Linked DNA regions of Homo sapiens. The protein of the gene in region 1 interacts with the protein of each later gene in a pairwise test. Each region holds a gene or a part of one and is shown on either strand. Other genes may lie near its edges.

Region 1 (3,500 bases):
TCCTGAGAAATTGAAATAACTCAATAGAAGTTCAATACTACTATTCTTCTTTGTAAGATGAACTTACACTGTGTTGCAGTTTACTCTTCCGATTACCCCTTGAAGCCAAAAGGATTCTCTCTCTCAATTCCTAACCTCTAGCACCGTACATGGCACCTGGTAATTCATTAAGTCCTTGTTAGATGAATGAATAAGTGAAGGAATGAATGGATGGGGGGGTTGCCCCTTCCGGTGACATTATGCTCTGACACGCTTGGAATTTGTGGTCCTTTCGCAGAGCACAGTCAGATGGCCAATGTCGGGAAGAGACCATCCAGTGTCAATGTAGACCCCAGGCATACCAGGGGCACTCCTGGGCTAAGCGATGATGCTCTGTACTGCCCCTGCCTTCGGCCCCCTTCCCGTGCTAGTAGTTCTGGTCTGCACAGCACACGGAAGCCAAGCAATGGCTGAGTGTGGTGAGCTCAGATCCACCGAGCTCAGGGACTCCTCCTAGCCTTCCTCTGAAGCCTTTCCAGGCACCAGGTGTCTGCCAGTCCCAGCTGACATACAGGACCTGACAGAAGCATCCAGAGAAAACTGAAGTAGAATGTAGATTTAGGGATCCCTGGTCATCTGGATGTTCCTCCTCAATCCAGGCTCAGCTGCAGACAAGTGTTAGTTTCAGTTATCCTCATAGCTTTGCCCACAGAGGCCCCTAGGGTGCTTTGGAGTGCAACTGTCATTCTTCTTGGCCCAATACACCCTCTTGAACCTCTCACCTCAAAGGTAGGACTATGGAAAGTCTGGCCAGAAAGCCCGTGTCTGTGACATGTCTCTGAATGTATATACACATGTCTGTTTGTGCATGTCTCTGTGGGTAGGCCTGAGTGTGCACCTGTCTGTGTTCATGTCTGTGTCTGTTTGTACATGGTCTACACTTATGTCTTTAAGTATGGCTATGTGTGCATGTCTATACACATGTGTGCATGCATTGTGCATATGTCTGTGTATGTCTGTGCATGTGTCTGCATATGTGTGTGTATGAGTGTGATGGAGTGAGGGAGAGTAGAACATTGAGATAAGAGGAAGAGGGTATGTAGGATTAATCAATGGGGTGGGGTGAAGTGGAGGCTGAGTAGACTTAAAGCCTATGCAGAGGCAGAAAGGATTCCTGTGTCCCCACTCTCCATTTCAACACACACCACAGGACACACTGCTCTGGACCCAAGCAGCCCAGAGCTAGAAGGCTCTGTGGGTCCTCTAGTCCATTTTGCAGTCTAGGAGTCAAGGCTAGCCCAGAGAGGAGTAGCGATTTGCTCAAGGGTACATGTGAGGTACCACCACTGCTGGCGCTTGGCCCAGCCTCAGGATTCCTGGGCCAGACTGCTGTCCCCTCCAGGAGAAGGACCCCAGTGTGTTTGAAGATGTCGCCTTGTGTGAGCAGGCCAGTCTTGGTTGCCTGGTGAAGCCAAGGGAGTGGCCAGTGGGGGAGTCTGGGGAAGAGGGGGAGCAGACCAGCCTGGGGGCAGCGTGGGCAGGAGTAGAGGTGTTGCAGGGGGTGAGGGTGCCACCAGCAACCTGAGTGGGGAAGCCCACAGTTTCCAGGCAGGCAGTGCCTATGGGATGACGGACCACTATTGAGAGGCCCAGGAGCAGTGTGGGTATACCATGATCAGGCACAAGTAGGGGCTGGAGTAAGTGCAGAGGCCCTGAAGTCAGATGGGCCTGGCTTGATTTTAATCCCAGCTCTGACAATTACCGGATCTTTAATCCTTGGCAAGTTACCTAAACTCTCTAAGCCTCCGTTTCCCCATTTGCAAAGTGGAGATTATAGTACCTACCTCAACGATTTGGTGAGGATGTAATCAGATAATGTGTGTGAAGAACTTAGCACGGTACCTGGTACATAGCGAAGGCACAAAAGAAATTGGTAGCGGTAGAGGAACATGTCCGGGAAAGAAGGTATGAGTTTCAGAACTGCCCCCTCCATCCCTCTGCTCTGCAGGGCGGCAGAAAAAAGCCCCTGTGGTCAATGGTGTGCAGGGGCTCCGGGAGCAGAGCCTATGCGTCGGTCATCCATCCCGTGTCGTGCGGTGCCCCCTGGTGGGCTGCGAGGGGCTTGCATGCTAGGTGGGGACAGAAGCTGGCTGGGGGAAGGATGCCGAGCTTGGGGACCAGTAGAGTTTTGGGTCCAAGGGACTGAATTTTTGGAAATTCCACTGGATCACAGATATTTTACCAACCAGACTCCTCCCTGGAGAGCTGAATTCTCTGCATAACATGCCTCTTTCTTCACTTTCCCAATTTATAAAGCACCTTCACTGGGATCATTGTCACTGTCCTGTGAGGCAGGCGGGGTGGGGTCTAGTGCCTCCTTTTCTCAGAACTATCCGCTCTTCTTTTGCCTTGTCTGAGGATGCCAACTGCCTGGGGCTCAGCCTTCTTCTCTTCCATCCTCCCTGATGGCTCAGAGCATGATTCTGGAGGCAGCTAGCTAGGTCGGAATTTGCTTTGCCGCATGGAAGCTGTGCCATCCTGGGTGGGTTACTTGATATCTCCAAGCTTCAGTTTCATCATCCTAAGATGGAGATAATTTTATCACTCTCAAATAAAGTCGCTCTGAGGATTAACTGATAGGACTTAGGTAACAGGATTAGCACATAAGCCTCCATGAAAAAGAGCTGGTTACGGCTAGCTGTCCATTTTGCTTCACACATCTCAGCCTGGTGGGCAGGACTGCTGTGCACCTCCTTTTTAGATGTGCTGACCTTTCTACTCAGCAAGGAGAGAAGCAGCTGCTGGAGGGAGTGGAGGAAAGGTGGGATTTGAAGTCAGCAGCCTGACTCTGCCGCTTCCCACCTGCCTGCCTTGGGGCTGTCACCTTCTTTTAGAGTTCATGTCCTCCTCTGTAAAATTGGATAAACCGATATCCACCCCACGCCCACTCCACCCCATGTCCGCTCTCCTTTCTTCAGTTGTAAGGAATATTGGCATAACCCAGGGGACATGGAGCTGTGGCTCACATGACCAGCGGGTGGGCTTGGGTTCTGCAGCGCTGTACACTCCTCAAAGCCCTTTCTCCTCCTCCATGAATTCAGTGGATCCTCAAGGCAATTCTGAGAGGGAGGCAGAGCAGAAGCCGTACAGCTGTGGTTCTAGCTCCCAGGCTGTAGACTGACCCAGAGAGGTTCAGGGGCATGCACAGAGTCACGTGGCCCTAAGCATCTCGGAGTGGTGGCGGGGGGCAGCTCTTGATGTGCTTGCCCCCAGCTCCTCGCTCCTCTTCAAGAGGCCAGGACCTGCTGGAGCAGGCGTGGCAGTTTCCACAATGGCTCAGCACCCTGTGGGGAGATGTGGGTGTCAGCAGAATGAGGCTGGGACTTTGTGTAAGTCGCCCCTCTGCTCTGAGCTGCTGCTGGATTCCTTCTACCTCTGACATTCTGTGACTCGGGGAACCAAGACCTGGGACAGTTCTGTCCAGGTACATCAGCACCAGAGCCCTTCTTAGTGGATAGCTG
Region 2 (3,500 bases), on another chromosome or scaffold:
CATGGCCTTCAAATCCTTTACATATATATAACTTCAATTTTATTTCATCTAAGAATTAATTGCTGTCAATTAAGGATAAAATAAAACTTTGACTTTATTTGGATTGTTAATGTAGCCAGGCTCTTCTATTTAAAGAATGAATGTTACAATTAAACAAATAAAGCATTTATATGCAAAGCCCCACTCTCACAAACTGATGCTGAGCTGGACATTAACAGAAAAAAGAAATTAGTTTCACGGATAAGAATGAACACTTGTGGACAATGATGCCACCATGTAGATAGGTTTTAGGGTTTTTTTTTTTCATAGAAAAACAGAGCTGCTTTCTAATGTGCCCGAATATTCAGCAGAGAGTGTGTGCATATGGTTAAAACAATACATGTTTTAGGTAAATACACATGCACCCGAAGAAGCAGCACTGTGATTTGACTAATAAATCATAATATTCATTTAATTTTTTAATGGAATTTAAAACTAGGAATAGTTTTAGAGGTTATTTAGTTCGATTCCCTCATTTTACACATACCATATGTTTCTATGGTGTTTATACTATTGAAGTTAAATATAAACATGTTCAAATCTGTGCAGAGGTAGATTATGAGAAATAAAAGCAATCATCTATTCATCAGCAAGGCACATTCACTTACAAAGTATGAATTATCTATTCATCAACAAATCATAACCATACTGATACGAATTTTAAATAAAAGCAAAACACATATTTATAAATAACCATCCTGAAACGATAACTAGAAGTTCATAGTATTTCTGAATATTTCAGTACTCACCTTATACAAGAACAACATATTCACTGCTAGGGGAAAGGGACCAATTTATTGAATGGTGCATTTATAATTTGAAGCTATAGATATTGAAGCTAGTAATTACATTAGAAATATAGAGTCTGGGGTATGTATTTTGCTAACATTTGAAAAATTACTGGGTATTCTGGAGTGATTTATCTATTTCTACTCACATTCATTTTCCAGCATGCGTTTTTTTCAAAGTAAAAAAAAAAAAAAGGTATGATCAAGGATCAGGTTTTGCAGACATAAAGATGACAGAGAAAGCTCATTTCGTCACTAGAATAATACATTTCATATCTTTAGCATTATCTCCTTATATGTAATTCGCATTGAAGTTGATAATAAATGGAATATGTGCTCAGTGAAAAATGTTTGGAAATACTGAAAAGCAGAAATAAGAAAATGACAATTAACTATAAACGTATTACACAGAAAAACAATACAAAATACATTTTTGTAATTTTTTTACTCTAGATATCCCTCCCTGCCTTTCCCCACCAAATGTATGCACACGCATATCTATATGCTAGATATCCCTCCCTGCCATTCCTCAGAACATATATATGCACACACATGTCTATACCTGTATGTTTTTCTTATGCATTCTGACTCTGCAGCTTACATGATTTGTGACTTTTGGCAAGTAACTTAATTTTTCTGTGCTTTAGCTTTTTAATCTTTACAATATGGATAGTATTAATAGCCATGTTATAGAATTGTAAAGATTAAGTGAGGTGATAAATATAAAGTTTTAGAAACATGTCTGAAATAATGTATATTATTATTAGAATTATATTTTTAAACATTTTAAATTAACAAATCTTTCTCATTTTTAATTGAAAGATTAACCCACTACTAGTATTTTGTAATATTTTCACTAAGCCATAATGAAATCTTTTCCCCTCATGATAATGGTGGTAAACGGAACATCTAAAAAATATGTTCCATGCAAAATGCATCTTCACACAGACTTATTTTGCCATTTTAGTTTGATTTTTGAAGACATGAGTTCAGCACATCTGCCAAATCCTTTTATAAGATGCTACATTCCTGTTTTTATTTTAGTTTATTTTATTTATGAAAAGTTCTTTTCTTCTCCACTCCACCCCCAGACAGTCATTCCTCTCTGTCCTAAACCATAACACTGCTGTACATTGCATTTTTAAAAATAAACCAAAACTGGGAAGAAAAACTTTTTAAAAAAGTAATTCTCCTGTTGGCCTAGCTAGATGAAAAAACAAAAAGCAAAACAAAAACAAAAGCAAAAACAAAATCTTGTATTGAAAATATACTATTTGATAATGGGCTTTTATGTTCGTTTGCCAAATGTAGAATCACAGAGTTTTTGTTGTATTTTTTTTAGTGTGGGAAGGAGGCAACTGGTTTGGGGAGGAAAAAGATGGAGTAAAACAGATGAAGAAGAATCAGTTTGCAAACATATGTTAATATTTAGATTCTTTTTTTAAAAAAGTGAAAACTTAACTAGTGAATGCTTTTCTACAAACTGTCTTTGATACTGTGTTTTGTTTATTCCATCCCAGAAGAAGTTAGCGGTATTCAGCAAGATGCAGGACTCTCTGGAAGTCACCCTTCCCAGCAAACAAGAGGAGGAGGATGAGGAGGAGGAGGAGGAGGAGAAAGACCAGCCTGCCGAGATGGAGTACCTTAACTCTCGCTGTGTCCTTTTCACTTATTTCCAGGGAGACATTGGGTCAGTAGTGGATGAACACTTCTCAAGAGCTTTGGGCCAAGCCATCACCCTCCATCCAGAATCTGCCATTTCAAAAAGCAAGATGGGGCTAACCCCCCTATGGCGAGGTAAGAATTCAAAAGCAGATGTTCTCCAGGGCACTGTCTTTGTTTCGCAACTGCCTGTACCAGGTTCCAGCTGGAGACTTGCCCCTGAGGATGGATATCCACTTGCTTTTTAATATTTAAGGACAGTGAGGAATTTCTTTCAGACAAACAGCTGGATCGGTTTTGTCACATGTGGAATGTAGGGTTGGAAAGGATGCAGTCACACCCCTTAAATTCCTCATGGAAAGTAGTGATACAACCGGCTTGAGTTTATAGTGGCTGCACTGAGCTGCGAAGTACCATTCCTAAAGCCCCAGTGGCCCAATTTGGATCTCTAAATAATAGGCGTGTCTAAATCAGCTTTTAAAAAATTAGCTCTTGCTCATTCCAATAGGTGCTATGTGGTGACATACCAGAGACCTGAGTCTGACCCAGGAATACAGACATTGAAAGCTGTCTGTGTTCTTTGAATAGGCTTCTTTATCCTGATTTGTTATTGTATTAACTCTTTATAGTATACACTCTAGGCATTTTGGCAGCATCCACATGGCTTAAACTAGTGTTTTTACCTTGATAAAGAAAGAGCAGCACATTGGACTCCTTTATTTCTCTCTGTATCGAGCTCACAGAGATGTGTTTGAAACTGATTTCTGACTCATAGAAAATTATTGGTGACATCTAAATCAGGGTAATTACAGGGTTAGATAAAAACATAATACGTCATTCCAATGACAGCTTCAGAGAAATTTGCTACAGTGGTGATTTCTTCCAAATTCACCTGGTTATAGGAATGATCTAGTAAAATGGTTCTCGAGGTGTGATTTTCCTGACCAGGAACATCAGTGCCACATGGGAGCTTGTTAGAAGTGCGAATTCTTGGGCTCCACCCCAGACCTG

The links. The genes of interacting proteins can lie anywhere in the genome.
Region 2: the proteins of SMOC1 (region 1) and VGLL3 interact in binary tests that used the Homo sapiens proteins (3 or more experiments, as listed by UniProt).

The regions. Positions count from the first base shown.
Region 1 is NC_000014.9:70,025,916-70,029,415, forward strand, and holds part of SMOC1 (SPARC-related modular calcium-binding protein 1 isoform 1 precursor), read left to right. Parts: intron 1-3,500. UniProt on the Homo sapiens protein: Plays essential roles in both eye and limb development. Probable regulator of osteoblast differentiation.
Region 2 is NC_000003.12:86,977,650-86,981,149, reverse strand, and holds part of VGLL3 (transcription cofactor vestigial-like protein 3), read left to right. Parts: intron 1-2,347; coding exon 2,348-2,624; intron 2,625-3,500. UniProt on the Homo sapiens protein: May act as a specific coactivator for the mammalian TEFs.